2 separate regions of the Homo sapiens genome follow, and region 2 is linked to region 1. The links come from fine-mapping of genetic effects on plasma protein levels. A gene starts in region 1. The other region holds a variant in brackets. All regions are shown on one strand. Distances are between the middles of the regions.

Region 1 (11,932 bases):
CTGCGTTCCTAACAAGCTCCCAGGTGGTGCCACTGCTGCTGAGCCATGGACCACACTTTGGATAGGAAGGAGTTACACTGATGTGTCTGGGAATGGGGACCACATACTATGCAGGCTGTTGCATTAGGAGGATGGTGGGGAAAATTCAGGATATTGGATTGTGTTACCAACTTCTTACAGCCCTCAGTAAGGTTCTACAAGAGACAGGCCCTTAGTTTCACACTGGCCTATGTGAAAACAAGAAAATACATCTCTGTTAAGAGAGGTTCTCTCTTGGCGGGGCACGGTGGCTCATGCCAGCACTTCGGGAGGCCGAGGCAGGTGGATCACAAGGTCAGGAGTTCAAGACCAGCCTGTCCAAGATGGTGAAACCCCGTCTCTACTAAAAATACAAATATTAGCTGGACGCCGTGGCAGTGCCTGTAATCCCAGCTACTCGGGAGGCTGAGGCAGGGGAATTGCTTGAACCCGGGGGCGGAGGTTGCAGTGAGCCAAGGTTGAGCCACTGCACTCCAGCCTGGGTGACAGAGTGAGACTCCATCAAAAAAAAAAAAAAAAAAAAAAAAAAGAGGTTCTCTCTGCCTATGAACTGAAATTTAAAAATGGCTGAAATGTGATCACGTGACTATGTCATCTTGGTCAACTTTTTAGAGTCTGCCCATATTTGTAGAATGAATGCATGAATGAGTGAGTGAGCTTGCTATAAGAAAGAGCTAGATAATTAGAGCCTCCCAGCAATGAAGCAGGTTGCCATGTAAATACTGAGCTCCCCAACCCCGGAAGTGTTCAAGCAGTGACTTGATGACCATCTGTCAGCTTTAATGTAAATAAATATGACCTGGGGATTTTGTGAAAATGCAGATTCTGATTTGGTACATCTGGGTGGGGCCTGAGATTCTGTATTTCTGAGTAGCTCCCAGAAGATTCCAATGCTATAAGACTTTGGATCATACCTTGAGGAGCAAGGATGTAGTGGGGAATCCTACAGAGGGTAGAAAGTTCAGCTAGATTAGTAGTTTCCAAATCTACCCGTATGTCAGACTCACCCAGGAGATTTATTAGAAATAGAGGTTCTCCAACTCCAATGCCAGAGCTGGAATTCTGTAGACCAGGAGCAGAGTCTGGATGCCTGTATTTTTCCCAAGCTTTCCACTGATTCAGATGCAACCTTTGGGAATCACTGAACCAGAGGCTTCTGAAATGTTGTTCAAACTCTAAGCTTACTTTTTAAAAGAATCAGACAAATATAAATCATGATGAGGCAAAGCCAGGCTGACTAAAATCCCCTTGCTATACTTACTTGGCAAATATCACCAGGGTCAAAACACTGCCTTGTTATTTATGAGTCCTAGATCTATGCTTAAATCCATTTCTAGAGAATGTCATATTTCCTATATTTTTGCAGATTGGAATTACATTATGCTCTTAAAGTAGCCCAATTAATGATTTCTTGAACCCCAGCAACTTGTAGTGAAACAACATAATTATGTTAAAAGAGGGAACTTCCACATTAGGTTTCTTGGAGAATGTTTCAAAAGATAAAAATAGCAAGGAAATCTAGGGTTGTGTGACACATCGAAAACATCCCACAAACGGGAATCTTCCCAATTGAGTCTGTTAGGTCATGGTCTCTTGCTCTCATTGCAGCTGTGAGCAGGGAATTGCAGATCCCTAATCTGAGGCTGTAAAGTTTTATTGCTACAGATTTGATAAGTTCTAGGAGGGCAGAATCTCAGGCAGATTTGATCAATTTCTGTTTTTCTTACCCATTCATCATTTTCTCTTTTGACATGGCCACAAATGGGAGGGTTCATGAAGGTGGGCCAGCACCACGTTTTAGAACTTGGGGCTGGAGGGAGAGGCTGGACTTTTACCCCACTGCAGGGGTTAGAAGGGCCAGTTGAATTTGTAGGATGTGAAATCCAGTAAGGACCATGATTAAATTGCCAGCAGTGGCAGTGCCTCGGGCACTGGATCGAAATTCAGGGCAAAATTTCAGAGTTTAGACATGGAAAGCTAACAGTGGGGCCATCACCTCATGGGGGGCCAGGTACTGAAGTCAAAATGGGCCTCCTGAAATCTGTAGCAAGAAGGGAAAAGAGAAAACATGAGTTACTATAAGCAATGCAGGCCGGTTTTCAGCTGTCAGGCTAGGAAATTCTGCTAGGCTTTATTTCAGCAGACGGACATCATCAGCTATGCAGTATCCAGGTCCACAGGGACTTCAGAGAGGTGGGAGCAACTAGCCTAGGTTGCCGAGTTCAAGAGCAGAAACCCTGCCTGGGCCAGCTGTTGTCCTCAGGCTGAAGATGGACTCTTTCACATCCATGTGACCAAAAGAGGGCAAAACTAGAGTTGGCTCCTTGGGGACAGGGTGGTGCCATGGCCCCCATCATCTCCTTTTTTCTTCCCATCAGATAGCAAGCAGCTCATTGGAGAGCCACACAGTCACCAGGACAGAGAGAATGCCCAGCAGCAGAAGCCAAAAAAAGAAACTTTCCCTTTCTGTCTCCTCTGTCTGTGGCGTGCAACCCAGCTATGAGGACGTGGGGTTGAAGCCATTTCCTTTTTCAGTTTCAGCTTCTGACCCTCCTCAGGATTAGAAGTGGCGATTCAGAGGCTGGGAGGGTGAAAGCATGACTTCTCAAGAACCAGCTCGTGCTGAAGTCACTGCTCACCTTCCTGTCTCAGGGATGCTCCTGATGCTAATGACGTCGTGTGAATCATGCTCTACGTGTCTGCATGCCTGAGCCGAGCTTATCCTCATGGCACCCTGTGAGGCAGGCTGCTGCTCCTACTCCCACTCACCAGAAGAGGAAGCCGAGGCTCAGAGACTGAGTAACTCTTGAGGTTACACAGCCACCGAGCAGGGTCATTAGGGCCCTATGAGATTTCCTTCCGACTCCGCTCTGAACTCACTCTCGTAGGCCCAAGCTGGGCGCCTCCCCCAGGGAACACCGTAGTGGCCCGGAAAACAGAGAGCACAGGTTACATTTGGCTCACATTCTTGGTGTGTCCACTGTAGGTTGCTGTGAAGTAAATTTTAAATTTTTATATAAAAACAAACAGATAATTTCTTGAGTGGGACATAAAAGCATGAATTTGAAAGTTAAAATGTAAGATATTGACCTTTTACTTAATAATAATGTAACAATATTGCTTTATTAACTGTGACAAATGTACCATTGTAAAATAAGATAATCATAATGAAAACTGGGTGTGGAGTGTGCAGGAACTCTGTATTATCTTTGTAATAATATGGTAAATCTAAAATTGTTCTAAAATAAAAATTTTTCTCTTTAAAAAAGTAAGATATCAAATAAATTTTAGAATCTCAGTTTCCTTCAGGGGTACCTGGTCATGATTATCTTTTGTTAGAGGCATATCAGAGGCCATGTTGCTCGCTGAGTAGAAGGACATTCTACAGTGTACGCTTACAGCCTCTTGAAAAGCCTGTATTCATTAAGAGAAGAAAAAGAGGGTGGGACAGTGAAGATTCTTTCACTTCCTCTCCCCAGCCTCTGTCCCCTTCTTAGCACTGTGCGAAGAGTGAGAGGTAATAACCACTTCACCCTCCCCAGGTTTCCACCAGAGTGGAAGGGGTTCCATCACAGACAGACTATTTGAGCATTTCACCCCATTCCAGCCTCCACCACAATCCTACAAATTCAACTGGCCCTTCTAACCCCTGCAGTGGGGTAAAAGTCCAGCCTCTTCCAGAGACAGGAGAATCACTTGAACTCAGGAGGCAGAGGCTGCAGTGAACCAAGATAATTCCACTGCACTCCAGCCTGGGCGACAGAGCGAAACTCCGTCTCAAAAAAAAAATAAATAAATAAAAAATAATAAATAAATAAATAAATAAATAAATAAAGTGGGGGGTAATTCAGGGCAGGGCAGAACCAGAATGTGGGGAAGTCAAGGAAGCCACAGAGGCAAGAGATTTATGAAGGACAAATGGACAGGATTCAGTGACCAAGAAGATGGGAGGAAGGGGAGGAAGAGAAAAGAGGGAAAGAAAAAAGAAAAATGCCCAGGGTGTCTCCCTGGTTTCCAACTTGAGTGACAGAGAATGATCACATTCCCAGCAGAATTTTTCTTCTTTCTCAACAAGATTCTTCCTGTTCTTTTGTTTCTGGTTGTCCCTCAGAACTAAGGAGAAACAGCCTTTGGGATAGTTGTCCCCCTACCCCATCCCAGCTGGTCCTAAGAGTAAGAACATAGGATTCTCATCCCCCTTTTATATAAAGAGAACCTGAGGGTATGTAATGTGTACAAGACTGTACAATGAGGCAGAAGCTCACTGGCACTGGGACCTACAAGATCTACTGATTCACAATTGAATTCTAAACATCACAGCCCAAGGGAACCAACACAATTACTTAGTGGACCCATTTCTCTTTCCAGAGAAGGAAACTGAGACCTCTGAATAAAGAGTAATTTTCCCAATGTCACATGCTGCTGACTAGCAAGCTAGGACTAGAGCCTGGCTTGCTGAGTTTTAATAATCCAGTGCTCCTTGCATTTTCGCTAGTTGCTTTGTCACATCTGTATGCACGTGTGTGTGCAAACACATACACACACACATACACATGCTTGCTTGCTTGAGAAACAGGGCATTTTATTCGCATGATATTTTCTTTATGGACTTATCACAAAGCATATCCTCAGACTGCTCACAGAATAACAATAGCAATTCAAGATTGTTTTTTGTTTAAAATCCTGTGTTTCTTTATTTGTGGCTTAAGTGGGAATTGGTTTATTGCCCCATCTCTACCCTGAGCAACTCAGGATTTATTCAGACTGTCTTGCTCCATTGAGGTCTATCCCCTTCCCCAGCCCTATGCCTACATTACCCTGCCAAGGCAGGGAACAGATCTGACAGCTTTTTTGCTTAAGCAAACTTATTAAAATTCATAATTTGTCAACTAATTAGGAAGAGAGAGGATTAGGAGTAAGAAAAAACCAGAAGCACATACTATTAGGTGCTCAGTGAATATTTAAGAGGAACAGGGAAAGAGGGAGGAAAGGAAAGACAACACTGAGGGGAAATGGTTGAATGGCATTAACTGAAAAAAAAAAAAAAAAAGATTTGCCATTAATGAAGAGAAGGAAGAGACAGTATTCTGCCCACCCACCAGGTCGGTTCCCAGGGAAGCCCTTCAGTCTCAGCATGCTGTGGCTAAGTGGAAAAATTCATTGATCATAGGTTTGCCAGTTGGAACCCTTGTGTTATGCCAATCTCAGAAGCTACCAAGCATCAGATCAATTCTCCCACTAAAAAATACTAGGAGGCCGGGCTCAGTGGCTCATGCCTGTAATCCTAGCACTTTGGGAAGCCAAGGCAGGAGGATCACTTGAGCCCAGGAGTTCGAGACTAGTCTGGGTAACATAGGGAAACCCTGTCTCTACAAAAAATTAAAAACTAGTAGGGAATGGTGGTGCATACCTGTAGTCCCAGCTACTTGGGAGGCTGAGGTGGGAGGATGGCGTGAGCCCTTGCACTGACTGGTGGTTGCACCACTGCACTCTAGCCTGGGAGGCAGAGTGAGACCTTGTCTCAGAAAAAAAAAAAAGTTGCTAGGAGAAGATAACAGAGCCTCCTCCTGTCTGCTAGAGAGACATACAACCCATCCCAAATATTTCTTTTTCTCATCTATAAATCCCTCCTCTCTCTCCAAAGGGGGCTGCCTGGCAATGTCCCCATCCCTTCCAACAGCTCATGCCGCCCTGGGACACCATTCAGAGAAGCTCTGCCATCTGCACACCCCTCCAGAGGCCAGGGACAGCTTAAGCCAGAGTGCCTGGGTTCCTCCCTTCTCTGGGGTAGAACTAGTGGATGAATCCCAAAAGGGGTAAACATGGGCATATAGAGCCACCCTTGGGACAAGAAGTCTGTTTGTTTGGTGTTCTAGGAAACCAACAAAAGGAAATGCATTTTAGCCAGGAAAGAAAAGAAAAAAAACAACCCTGCCCAGCTATGAATGACAGCCAAGCCAGCAGACAAAGGTGAAAACAGACAGCTAAGGAAGGGACTAGCTATGCGCCCATGGGAGAGAGCACCTGACATGGGCCCAGTGTGAGAGCTACAATCACCTTACACAAATAGAATGGTCACTGTGTTACCAACCATGAGTATCCTTTGGATCAACCAAAGGTTGTGTATGCAGCATGCAGCATTCTAATTCTAGAAGGCGACAGAGGTGAGCCAGCTATGTCCAAAATCAGTCTCATTTATAAACTGTGTGTTCCTGGGAAGTATGTGTGCATGTTTGTGTGTGTGTGTGGGTGTGTGTACTGTCATGTGCCAGCGATAGACCTTATCTTCATTGGGTACTCCCTGCTGCTGCTGCTTTTGCTAAAATATCTTGGACTCTGCACTGACATATGAGAAGCTATTGGCCTTTTTAGCTTTCTCCTGAACTTTCTGCCTTCCACTCTCCATTTCTCAGGCCAATTTGCCATTCCCACATGGGAAGACATCTACCTGTGCTACAGATTTGACTAGACTGAGATAAACCCATGAAAACATGTCATCACATGTCAGCAAAGCTCTCAAATAAAAATTAGCTATAGAACAATAGGCATGTCACTGTCAGATTGACTGCCTCCAGGTGTGCTTCACGGCCAATATCAAGGAAGGTCCTTACTGGGCTGGAGCTGACACTGCCCCATCCTATTTGACCCATTACAGAAAGACCAAAGCTAGGACATATCATATCATGTCATAACATGATAAAACCCGGGAATAATCAGACCTGTATTTTGCTGTTACCCTGACCAATAAGTCACTATATTTTGTACATAGGAAGCAATGTTATCCCATAGGGTCTTCTAAAAGGAAGTTCCATCTTCAGATTATTCAGAACCAACTAGGTCAAGATCTGCCTAACAACACAGCTTCCTGAACATATTAAGCATAAAACTCAGAGGCAAGAACCTTGAGAAACATGTGCCAAAGTTCAGGGAATGGTCAGACACAGAAAAACAATGCTTGGCTAAGGAGCTGAAGTGTGTTTCAAAGAAAACAAGAAGAGCCTGATGTCTCATTCACCTCTCCTGGACAGCTGCCTTCTTCCGAGATGCCCAGCTTATTTGCCTGGATTCATCACGAGAGAAGTAGTTTTTAGATATATTCCACCATCTAGAGAAAGGAAATATCACTTTTTTGAAGGCGAACCAAGAAGTCTGTTTTGGGGTTGATAAATTTCTGACAGTTGCTCCCAGAGTATTTTCAACTCAAAGTATAATTTCATAAAGAGGCTTATTATGTTTTAAATTGTCTGTCTGTAAAATATACTTTCATGAAATTTTGTTTTCTCGGAATCTTCCTTTTTCCTTCTTGTATGAATCTAATGAACTTGAATTTCCAAAGTCATTGAGGTAGGAAAGGTATGTAACATTATGCTTGAGCTTTAGGTCAATAATTTATACGATAGTGGTGGTTTTGTTTTGTTTCGTTTTGTTGAGACAGAGTCTCGTCCTGTCACCCAGGCTGGAGTGCAATGGCATGATCTTGGCTCACTGCAACCCCTGCCTCCCAGGTTCAAGTGATTCTCCCACCTCAGCCTCCCAGGTAGCTGGGATTACAGGTATGCACCTCCATGCCTGGTTAATTTTTGTGTTTTTAGTAGAGACAGGGTTTCACCATGTTGGCTGGGCTGGTCTCCAACTCCTGACCTCAAGTGATCCACCCACCTTGGCCTCCCAGATTCTGGAGTTTTTTAAATGGGTCACCCTATAGAAGGCATGAAGTCATAGAATCATAATAATCACCAAAACCAACCATTGATTTCAATACTAGAAAATTTGAGACACCAGAAGGTGAAGTGACTTGCCTAGAGCCATACAATGGCAGAGGCAGGGACTGCAACCCACTATGAAAGCTTAGGGCTCTTCTCACCCTTTGGTGGCCAAAAGTATTTTGAAATTTTGACCAAAAAAATTAATGTTTATTGATCACTTTAAATCCAAAAGATGAATCCACTGGATTCCACAGTAAATTGGGTGGAATGTAAGGGAGGGATCAAAGGGCAGTGAATATATGAATGGGGAGGAGAACCATTTAGCTAGGTGCAAAAGTAATTGCGGTTTTTGCAATACTTTTGCACCAACCTAATAATTGTTCATAATTCTAAGAGCTATTCGGATCCCATTAGGAGCTTAAAAGGGACAAATGTGCTCAGGGCATGCAGTTTTTGCCTTCCGGAACTAGATCAGGATCATGCATTTAAGCTAGAAAATGGAAAGAGGAGTTGCTTCACCCACAGTCAGTGCTATTGCATCAACCAATCCCTGCCATTCTGCAGTTTCCTGGTGTATCTGCCCGGAGTCACACAGTCTTTCCTGCTAAGCCTCAGCGTCTCCTCCAAGCCACATCAAAATCTTTCCTTCTGGGCCTTTCCCAGAAGTGAATTCTTGCTGGAAGGTATAAAAGACCAGCTCCTCCAAGCAGAGCAACTCCCTGGCTGCCGTGAAAAGACAAGGCACTGGGCAGGTAAGACTCGTCAACTTTCATCTTTCCTGGTTTCTGCAAAGTTGATGATGAAATTTCCTAACGTCTTCTCAGAAAGCTTAACACTGGATTTAGACTTGTCTCTATCAGGCACTTTCTGGTGCCAGCTTTAGCCACCCCATGGCACACTCCTCTTGTTTGGTATAAGAGAGAATGTAATTAAGCCTCCCCCCACCACTGTGGGGGAAAAAGGCTTTTCTGTGTCTGAAAACTATGTCAGAGAATCATAAACTCTTAGGGCTGGAAGGTACCATAGACCTCTCTTATCCACCTTGTTTAGGAACTGAGACTTAAGCAATTTAATGTGTCCAGAGTCACACAGGAATTTGGGGGAAAACAGTGACAGAATGGTGCTCCCTGTGCTGTTCTTGAGACAGTGTGATGAAATCTGGCCTCTCCACTATAGTGGAGATTTTGCAGTGTTTTAAGGGGTTCCCTAAGCCGGAGCTGTCAGGTCTTCATCTCATTTCCAGCATCTCATGCCTGCCATCTGCAGCAGATCCGACCATCTAGTTTGCCCTCAATGTCTAGTCCTAGCTGTCTTAAGTGCCCTGTGGACACCTGGCTCTCAAGCAGGTGTGTGACCTGTATGCAGCGGTAGTAGGCAGGCTTCATTTTGGGGGAATGGGGTGGTTAAATTATATTTGTTTTTTATGCAATTGTGTGCCTCAAATCTTTCAGTTGAAGTAGATTATTTCCGCTCTAGAGGGCTTGATAAGAGCTATCTCTTCATTCTCATCCTGATCTTGGAGTCACTCAAAAGATCAAGAGAGTGTTCCTGCAGGTGATGGGGCAAGAATTATGGCTTTCCTATTGGCTCACTCCACCACCCTCCACAGGGCTCTTTACAATCATGGAAGAGAATCTCACTGACTTCATCCCTTCTCAGGCCTTCCCCCTATCTCCTTGGTGACTGCTCAGCGACATTGAGAACCAAAGTCTGGAAGGCCTTGGTACTCAGAGTGTGGTCTGCAGACCAGCAACATCATCATCACCTGGAGCTTACTGGAAATGCAGACTTTCAGGCCCCTTCTATGACCTTCTGAGTCAGAATCTGCATTTACCAAAATCCCTAGGTGATAGTAGGCACATTACAGTGTGAGAGGCTTGCCGAGGGACTATCTCTGCCCTCTCCCTCTGCAACCTCCAGATGCTGAATTTCTCTGCTCTAGGAGTTTTATTCATTCAGCATGCACCCAACACCTATTATGTATTGACATGCTTAGGTCCTGGGAAAACAAATAAATAAGATGGAGCCCTTGAGGAGTTCATGGTCTGATAGGGGAAACAGATGTGAAGACAGTAATATGAGATATGGATGAAATACTGTGGGAGGACAGAAAAAGGAACGATCTAACTTTTCCTGGAGAAAACTGGTAAACTTCACAGAGGAGGTGAAATTTGGTCTGGGTTTTGAAGAATGAATAGGAGTTTATTAGCCAGAGAGGGTATTGTATAGGGAAGAGCATGAGTAGAGGCATGGGATTGTGGACCAGCCTGGCATTTGAGGGGCAAAGGCTGTGGCTCTGTCTCCAGATAGTGCTTCATGTCCCAGGGAAGGCTCCAGGCTTTGCTGCAAATCAAAGGGCTTGGGAAATGGTTTCTGCACTCAGCATGTTGATAAGAATATGGATAAATATCTACACATCACAGGAGCCTCTTGTTGGCCTCTTACACTCTAAAGCCCCAGGCCCTCTTGCCCTGTGTGGTTCTGGCTGAAGACAGTGTCCCTCTAGAATCTTTCTGCACACCCCCTTTTCAGTGACATGACCTTGTATTCACCTGGCTCTGATTTTTGTTCATACCCGTCCCTCACACCCACCAGGAACATTGCCCAAGACATGGGAAAATAATTTCTCTCTGGCCTTGAAGTCCCCCTCCTCCACTTTCCAGTGAGGAGAGCATGAAGGGGGTCCTAAAGAAGAGGAGAGGAGAATTGAATATTTAAGTATTGTTTCCTGTTCAAATTTCTCAACTTTCATGTCTTCTTCTATGATTTTGTCTTCCTCAGGCTGTCTCAGATGATGTCTTTTTAAAAAATGGACTAATTTTTTACTTTGTGTTTGTCATTTATTAGGAAACGCATTAGTCATTCAAAGAACAATATAATGAATGTTTGTGCCCACAGCCCTCTTTAAAAAAATCAGTGATATGGTGGTTGCCAGGAGCTAGGGGGAAGGGGAAATAGGGAGTTGGTGTTCAATGGGTATAGGGTTTCAGTTTTTACAGGATGAAAATGTTCTAGAGATCCATTGTGCAACATGTGAATATACCTAACATTACAGTACTGTAGAGTTTAAATGACTAGGATGCTAAATTTTATGCTATGTGGATTTTTGTTGTTGTTGTTCTTTTCTTTTCTTTTTTCTTTTTTTTTTTTTTTTTTTTTTTGAGCCAGGCTGGAGTGCAGTGGCGCAATCTTGGCTCACTGCAGCCTCCACCTCCCAGGTTCAAGGGATTCTCCTGCCTCAGTCTCCCGAGTAGCTGGAATTGCCGGTGTCTGCCACCACGCCTGGCTAATTCTTGTATTTCTAGTAGAGACAGGGTTTTACCACATTGACCAGGCTGGTCTCCAACCCCTGACCTCAAGTGATCCGCCTGCCTCAGCCTCCCAAAATTCTGGGATTACAGGCATGAGCCACCACACCTGGCCATGTTTTTTACCATAGTTTGTTTTTTAAAGTCAATGATACCTTTTCCTCCAAAACCATCATCTCTGTTTGTCTGAAGGGCAGATTTCTGCTAACTCAATGAACCCTGCAATGGGTCCCCTGAAGTTGCAAAATATGGTGACAGAGGGATAGGAGGTCACAGAATCTCTTCCTCCTTGGGGCCATACAACTATAAGGACAAGAGCCCACTGAGAGGTCAAGCTGTTTGAGAACTCATCTTGGGGTGGGGGGAAGTAACAGAGAGAATCTTGGCCAGAGAGGTATTTATTCATGCCTTGCCCCTTCTCTAGAGTTAGCTGGCAAAAAGTACAACAAGATACAAATTATTAGGGGGACCACGAAAGGGCAGAGGGAAAAATTGGAGGCAGGCAGGGGTGAAGGAGGCTGAAATGACCTGATCCATATACAGAGGTCTCCTGGTCTGGCCTATTCCAAAGGGAGATGATTTGGAGAGGGTCTGCAAGACATACGGGGAAGTCTGTCAGGCAAAGCTCCAGAACTATGATTTCTCTCTGGGAGCTGAGCCCTGGGGAGACATGGCTGGGGGGCAACCTGAGGCTGCTCTCCTTAGTGTGCTTCTGGATTCCACCAGTGAACGCCGTGCTGCAGGGAGAGCACAGGCGCCCTTGTGAAAGCTGAGGAGCCTCTCAGGACCATGGTCTAAACACACAATCATTCCATCTGCACGCTGTGGCTGCCACCCCGGGCTGGAGCCAGAATCTCCTCAGAAGATGTATGGGGTCTG
Region 2 (8,000 bases), 15 kb after region 1:
TCTGTGCAGATGCAGCTCTGGGGGCCCTACATTCATTCCTCCCCAAAATCCTAGGAAGTACTGAATCGAACTGTAGAAAACAGCTGTTTTCAAGGTCAAAAATGATGAAACAACATGGTTCAACCTAAGATTACCATCATTATTTTCATTATACCAATAAGGAAACTGAGTACAAAGAGCTTAAGTAATTTGCCTCAAGGGCACACAACTAGAAAGTGGCAGTCAGGAGCCAATCCCAGTCAGTCTATCCCAAAGTCCATACAGAAGTCTCTGATGGGAGGAAATTGTGATTTCCAGTTCATAAATGAGGGGAAGTCACTCAGAGGTCATATAATTAAACCAATCCTGGTGGAACCCAGATCCACCCCTGTGTCTGTCCAGCTCTAAGCCCACTTTAGGCTAGCAGTGTCCAAGATAACTTTCTAGGATGATGAAATGTTCTATATCTGCACTGTCCAACACAGTCATCACTAACCACACCTGGCTATTGAGCACTTGAGGTGTGCCTAGTGCTGCTGAGGAACTGAATTTTTAATTTTAATTTTAATGAGTTTCAATTTAAATAGCCACATGTGGTTAGTGGCTACTGTATTGGACAGTGCAGCAGCTGGGTTATGAGGCCATGTTGTACACACACCCCTCCCACCCCTCCAGCGGCCCCCAGCCCCCTTCCTACAGGGTCCAGGCCATGATCCCCATCTCCCTCCACTGTAGGCTGAAGACCGCCATGAGCTCTGAGACTCCCACCAGCCGACAGCTCTCAGAATACCTCAAGCATGCCAAAGGCCGGACGCGCACAGCCATCCGCAATGGACAGGTGTGGGAGGAGTCTTTAAAGAGACTGAGGCAGAAGGCATCCTTGACCAATGTCACAGGTACAGAAAACCCACCAGCCCTCTGTGGCAGGAAGGGGTCATCTCCCCACAGGAGAAAGCAGAGGCCACCCAAAGCTGCACTTCCTGTTGAGAGCTATCTACTCAGAGGAACACTCCTGTCTCTCCCTTCTTAGACCCGTAGACGAGACTGGCAGAGCAAGGAAGGTCTTAGAGGACAGCTAGGGCAATGCTGTTTTTGCAGAGGAAGAAACTGAGACCTAGCAAGCTCACATGGCCGACTCCAAGTGAGGGGACATTGGTGCTCTTTGTATAACACCGTCTGTAAGGCCTCTGCCCAAAGGAAGTGCTAAAGTCAATAAACATGGGTTCCTTGTCCTAAGCCACAGTGTCACCACTTCCTCTAGTAGAAGAGACATTTAAGCCACATGTGTCAGGGGGATTTACTTGGGATAATGTCACAGGAGCTAAGATTTCCATCGTGTTCTGGGTAAGATGGAGCTATCAGTAAGTGAACTTAACTGATGGCTTGGTCATGGCCTCCTCCATCCCCTCCACTCTCACCCCCAACCAAATGCCACAGCCCACAGAGGGTCATGAGGAAGGGGTTTGGTCCTGACAGGAGGAAAAGGCTGCAGGTTCTCCCTGGGAAAACATCAAGTGAGGGGGGATACCTGGCCCAGGAGTTGGGCAAATTCCAAAGCTCCAAAAGAAGGAAACTGGGACAAGGTAAGAAGTAGGAAGCACTTTGACCTCTGAAATACAAAAGGTTCGGAGAGCTGAAATCCTGCCACCTTTCAGAGATGGCCCCCCGGAAGAAGCCCCCATGAGCCAGATTCCCTCACCTCCCTGCCCTTGCAGACGCCAGGGTGGATGAGGGTATGCGTTCAGAAGTGGGCATCTCTCTCCACTCTGTGCCCACACTGAACACTCTGATGCCTAAAGCCCCCCTACTCTGTCACTCCTCCCACAACCCTTGCCCCTCACTGAAAAATTACCTGTCCCTTCCCAACCTCTATCCTAGCTATGTCCCTGCTTGCTTGGTACTTCAGATGTGAACGAAGCTTTAGAAGAAAGCAGTCTTATCACACTAACTCATACTAACATATGCTTAACCTCCCGGGGTATTTCCATTCTAAAAGAAAGATCTGTCAATTCAAATGAATCTGGACCTGGTATACCAGGAATTACTAGCAATTCTGGGGACATTCCCAGTTACTCTGTGTGGCCTTGGGCAAGTCTCTTGAACATTGTGTTCTCATTTTCTTCCCTGTAAAATGGGAATAAAATGTATTACCTTAATGTGCTGTCAGATTAATTGAGAAACCACTTGAGAAACGCTTACTTAGAATGGAATGCATTCCAAAACATGCAGGTTCACCTCTGGTCTCCATTTCCTGCCTCCCACGGGTGCCTGTGAATGGAGAAAGAACTCAGTCCCTTTGGGGTCCCTTCTGTTTCAGATCCCAGCCTGGACTTGACTTCACTGTCTCTGGAGGTGGGCTGTGGTGCTCCTGCTCCCGTGGTGAGATGCGACCCGTGCAGCCCTTACCGCACCATTACGGGAGACTGCAATAACAGGTGGCGGGGCTTGGGGTGTGGGGGCCGACCATTCCAGCCACTCCGCCCCGCCCTGCCAAGGCCTTTGTCCCTTGGGCACTCTAGGCAGATCTGCCACTGCCTTGCCCACCTGGGCTGGCGTTCCCACCTTCCCCACCTTCTCAAGATCGCGCGTCTCCAGCCCTCTCCCTCCAGCCCACTGTGTGTCTCTGGAAGCGGCACCTTTCCCCGGGGCGGGGGAGCCCCGCGCCTTCAGGGGGTGGGCGCAGTTCAGAGACCCCAAATTTGAGAGGCCCCCTTCTCTGCGTCCCCTCCGCCTCGAGCAGAGGCTCCTTCCCCCATGGGGTCCTGGGCTTTGGAGCCCCGGAGCCGGCCTGCCGAAGCTCAGCGAGGATCGTGCTGGTTTCAGGAGGAAGCCTGCGCTGGGCGCCGCCAACAGGGCTCTGGCGCGCTGGCTGCCCGCGGAGTACGAGGACGGGCTCTCCCTGCCCTTCGGCTGGACGCCGGGGAAGACGCGCAACGGCTTCCCTCTCCCGCTGGTGAGGGCAGGCCGGGCCGGGGTGAAGGATGGGAGCCAGAGGGGACGGGATGCACTACCCAAACACGCAGTGAAAGGAGGAGGAGGGATCGGTGGGGGCAGCAGGGGTGCGCGATGGAGATCTGCACAGACCCCCACCTTCCGCTAGAGGGCAGCAGAGCTCGGAGCCCGGAGCCCGGCCACGTGGCGGTCACGTTCTGGCCGCCGCAGGCCAGATACCCTGGGGTCTCCCGGGCAGATGGCCTCCCTGCCCCATCCCGCTCGCACTTACCCCAGCCCCCGCCCCTGGAGTGCATCAGCTGTTGTTTGCCTGGAGGTCCTATTTGTTGGCCTTATCGAGCTGGCAGCCCCTACCCAGAGCCCCTCTCCTATTCCTGGACACCTGGCACCTCCGTAGCTCGCATTTCAGAGGCAGCCTGTCTTTGTTTTCCCTCTCTTAGTGGAAAGGGCACCGGCTTGGCAAATCATCAAGTCATACGGATCTGGGTTCAATCCCATCCCTGTCCCTTTGTAGCGGCAGGACCTTGGAGAACTGACTTCACCTGTCCAGGATTCAATCTCCCCCTCTACAGAATAGGCTAATGCCACCCACCTCACAAACTCCTTGTAGGGATTAAGTGCACTTGTAACATGGTAGGTAGTTAATAAGCTGTAGTTGCATCTGAATCCTCAAAGCACTTTTTCCTCTAATCTGCCCTCCCCTTCTCTCTCCATCTGTAGGCC[C/T]GGGAGGTATCTAACAAGATTGTTGGCTATCTGAATGAGGAGGGTGTTCTGGACCAAAACAGGTCCCTGCTCTTCATGCAGTGGGGTCAGATTGTGGATCATGACCTGGACTTTGCCCCTGACACCGAGCTGGGGAGTAGCGAGTACTCCAAAGCCCAGTGTGATGAGTACTGTATCCAGGGAGACAACTGCTTCCCCATCATGGTACGGCCCTGCAGCTAGGCATCTCTGACTAGCCCCTTGCCCACCCTGATGTAGCAGACATTCCCAGCTCATCAGCTAGGATCTCTGGATAGATCTGGGATACTGATTTGGTAGTTTCCCATGCCTCACGTGTCCATTCGTTCACTCATCCGTTTATTCAGTAAATAGACATTGACCACCCCATACCAGGCAGTGCACTAAGCGCTGAGGATTCCAAAGTGAACAGGACACCGCTCCTGCTCTCAAGAACAAAGGGCCAGTGTGGGAATTGGACAAGTAAACTACTGATAGCAGAATGGGAACACTGGAGAAGGTTGTCTACATTCCCGACCCAGCAGCATTGGTAAAACCTGCTTATTAGAAATGTAAAATCTCAGTTGGGCGAGGCGGCTCATGCCTATAATCCCAGCACTTGGGGAGGCTGAGGTGGACAGATCACCTGAGGTCAAGAGTTTGAGACCAGCCTGGCCAACATGGTGAAACCCCGTCTCTACTAAAAATACAAAAATTAGCCTGGCGAGGTGGCACATGCATGTGGTCCCAGCTACTCAGGAGGTTGAGGCAGGAGAACCGCTTGAACCTGGGAGGCGGAGGTTGCAGTGAGCCGAGATCACGCCACTGCACTCCAGCCTGGGCAACAGAGCAAGATTCCAACTCAAAAAAGAAAAAAGAAAAAGAAAAAAAAAATGCAAAATCTCAAGTCTCACCCAAGATGTTAGGAAATAGATTCTACATTTTTACCAAGATCAACAGAGATTCATTTTATACATGATAAAGTTTATACTGCTGTACATCATCGTGGAGGATGACTTCAACTCCACTCAGAAGGACTTGAAACCTGGATGAATCCGAGTGAGCAGCAGGGATTTGTAGGGATTTCCATCCGGAAGGGAGAGGAGCTTGCAGCAATGCATCTTTTCTTATTATTCATGGGTATTACAGTTGGAGAGTCATTTCTTCACTCAAAGAATAAATCGAGGCTATGTGCTGTGGTATAAAGAGCATAAACTGTGGAATGAAGCCAATGATCTGAATCCTACATCTTTCCCTTCCAGTGTATAAGTTCTTAGGCAACTTACTTAACTTTTCTGAGCCCCAGTTTTCTCATCTATAAAATGGAACTGAATTGTCCACCTTACAGGGTTTTTTTGAGGACTGAGATGAGTTAAAGTATGCATAATTCCTGGCACATGGTAAGTCCAAAATAAATACATGGCAGCTGTTGTTAGTAGTAATTATTAACAAACCTGTTCCCACCTCGTGTCCTGCTTTCCTGTCCAGGGAGCTCAATACTCCCTCCTCACCAGAAATTTGGAGCCCTCACTGTGAGGACTGAATGATTACCCTCAGTTCTTTCACACAACAGGATGTAATGAACTTCAGGATATTATGAGCCCAGGGTGTGTAATGTCAGCAAGAAGTGTCTGGGGTCAGTGTCTGGTACCAGGGTCCTAGGAGGGTGCCATCAGCATCTTTGCATCCAGACTTGCCCTGGGGAGAGGTTGCCAGGACCCAGCTGTTCCACCCCTGCCCAGTCACTTATGCCCACTCTCTCTGCAGTTCCCACCCAATGACCCCAAGGCGGGGACTCAAGGGAAATGCATGCCTTTCTTCCGAGCTGGGTTCGTCTGCCCCACTCCACCCTACAAGTCCCTGGCCCGAGAGCAGATCAACGCTCTGACCTCCTTCCTGGATGCCAGCTTTGTGTACAGCTCCGAGCCAAGCCTGGCCAGCCGCCTCCGCAACCTCAGCAGCCCCCTGGGCCTCATGGCTGTCAACCAGGAGGTCTCAGACCATGGACTACCCTACCTGCCCTATGACAGCAAGAAGCCAAGCCCCTGTGAGTTCATCAACACCACTGCCCGTGTGCCCTGCTTCCTGGCAGGTGAGTCTAGCCTGGGAACAGAAGGGCCCAAGGACAAGGGGATTATCCAGGGAAGCTTTACCACTGCCCCCTTCTTGTCATCTTTCTGGAAAAATGCACACTGAGCCATTGCTGTCCCTAGCAGTGGTCCAGGACTAGCAGAAGGGCCCAGATGAATAAAGAATTCCAGAACATATGTTCACTGTAAAACAAAATCAGGAAGTCCAGAAAAGTAACAAAGAAAATAAAAAGAAAGTGCCAGGCTTGGTGGCTCACGCCTGTAATCCCAGCACTTTGGGAGGCCGAGGCAGGCAGATCATGAGGTCACGAGATCGAGACCATCCTGGCTAACATGGTGAAACCCCGTCTCTTCTAAAAACACAAAAAATTAGCCGGGCGTGGTGGCACACCCCTGTAGTCCCAGCTACTCTGGAGGCTGAGGTAGAAGAATCACCTGAACCCAGGAGGCGGAGGTTGCAGTGAGCCGAGATCACGCCACTGCACTCCAGCCTGGGCAACAAAGCAAGACTCCATCTCAAAAAAAAAAAAAAAAAAAAAAAAAAGAAAGAAAGAAAGAAAAGAAAAGAAAAAGAAAATTCACACAATCCCACTACCCACCAATAATCATCGTTAACATTTTCATGCTTATTTTCCAGTATTTTTTCTATCACAGATACAGTTCTACATTGTTTTACATAATCGGGTCTTACTATAAATAATGCTCCAAAACCTGATGTCTTCACTTAATTTACTCCATGCCATTAACTGTTCTTCTATGACGTGATTTTTAATGGCTGCCTGGTATTTCATGACACATATTACCATCATTTATTTTCTCAATCCTACTTGGGGGAATTTAGTTATTTCAAGTTTTCCTGTGTTTTGTTGCTGTTGTTTAGGTAATGAACATCTTCATTGATAAATCTTTGTTCTCATTTTTAATACATTTATTAAGCTAATTTCCCAGAAGAGGAAGTTCTAGATGAAGAGGAATGTATATTTTTAAAGCTTTTTATAACCTGGGGACAAAATCCCCATTCCATTCAGCCTGTGCACGACCAAAGCCCTGCTAATTCTGTTCATTCCAGGTGCCCTCCTGGTCCTCTCTGTCTCCGGCTTCTAGAGGCCATCCCACCCTCAAACATCCTCTCTCTTTGGACAAACCCCCTGGCCACCCTGACATTGCAGAAGGCCAGCTCTTAGGCCAAGATACCTTTATAGATCTTTTGGATTTTGTGTTCACATATATCCCACAGCAATCCAGACACAAAACCGAGTTCTTTCTTGTTTTTCATAAAAATATGCACTCACACCAAGAATTTACAATTTTAAATAGATTTCCTGGCCTGGTGCAGTGGCTCATGCCTGTAATCCCAACACTTTGGGAGGCTTAGGTGGGAGGATTGCTTGAGGCCACAAGTTCGAGAACAGCCTGGGCAACATAGCAAGACCCCTGTCTCTACAAAAAATTTAAAAACTAGCAACACATGGTGGCACATGCCTGTAGTCCCAGCTACTCTGGAGGCTGAAACAGGAGGATCACTTGAGCCCACGAGGTTGAGGCTTCAGTTAGCCAAGATAATGCCATTGCACTCCAGCCTGGGCAACAGAGCAAGACTGTCCAGATAGATAGATAGATGATGATAGATATATAGATATATAGATATATAGATAGATAGATAGATAGATAGATAGATAGATAGATAGACTCTCCTAAAGATTAGAGGGCACAGGGAGAAGTCCTTTATCCCCTTATGAGACACCTGGTCTTTGGCCATTTAACTGTTCCCCCATCGTTACTCCTCTCTCCCTCCCACTACAGACCCCCATCTCCAGATTATTCTCCCTTTATTACCCAGAGGAACTCAGCCTTACCCAAGCTCCTCACCTCAAACCCGCATTCCTAAAACCTTCAAATTTGCTCTGTGAAGTAAAAAGCTCCTCATTCATTCGAAGCTCCCCTTCCTAGAAGGCGGTTGGGTTATAATTAGCAAAATGTTACTGTGTAGTTTGTCACCACTAGCCTTTGTCACAGTGCTGTGATAGGCTTTATTCTCATTTTCATAGGTAAGGAGACCGAGGCTCAGAAGTGTTAAGTAACTTGTCCAAGGTCACACAGCTAAAAAGTGTGTATATAGAACTGAGAGTCAAACCTATGATTCAGTACCCCCTCCCCATCCCTATTCACCTGACGGGAAGTAGGGCTTGTTGACGGGGCGGGGGGGGCGGGGCGCGGTCCTGTGGGGCACCATCATTTCTTTGTGCAGGTTACTGGGTC

Which allele goes with the higher level. Alleles are on the strand shown, and positions count from the first base shown. The strength of an association depends on the size of the effect and on how common the allele is.
As copies of C replace T in region 2, the plasma level of the protein whose gene starts at base 8,342 in region 1 goes up (weak association).

Evidence for each region. PIP is the posterior inclusion probability: the model's chance that the variant is causal. The UK Biobank Pharma Proteomics Project read protein levels with antibody pairs (Olink). The fine-mapping took linkage between variants from a reference panel, not from the people measured, so its PIPs are less certain.
Region 2: its variant is fine-mapped to the plasma level of the LPO protein (UK Biobank, PIP above 0.99). The variant lies in the coding sequence of LPO. If it changes the protein, the assay may bind it differently, which can mimic a change of level.

What each region holds. Positions count from the first base shown.
Region 1 is chr17:58,230,243-58,242,174 of GRCh38, forward strand. It overlaps LPO (lactoperoxidase), which reads left to right and starts at 8,342. Exons shown (of 13, transcript NM_006151.3): 1 at 8,342-8,497. LOC124904038 (a long non-coding RNA gene) reads right to left here. Exons shown (of 3, transcript XR_007065862.1): 3 at 11,436-11,932. It overlaps LOC105371841 (a long non-coding RNA gene), which reads left to right. Exons shown (of 2, transcript XR_934884.4): 2 at 2,418-3,337.
Region 2 is chr17:58,246,764-58,254,763 of GRCh38, forward strand. It overlaps LPO (lactoperoxidase), which reads left to right. Exons shown (of 13, transcript NM_006151.3): 4 at 715-875; 5 at 2,297-2,414; 6 at 2,803-2,932; 7 at 3,652-3,858; 8 at 5,419-5,743. LOC124904038 (a long non-coding RNA gene) reads right to left here and starts at 2,321. Exons shown (of 3, transcript XR_007065862.1): 1 at 2,179-2,321. RefSeq lists enhancers at 2,021-2,586, 2,717-2,786. The variant C/T (reference allele first, on the strand shown) is at 3,655.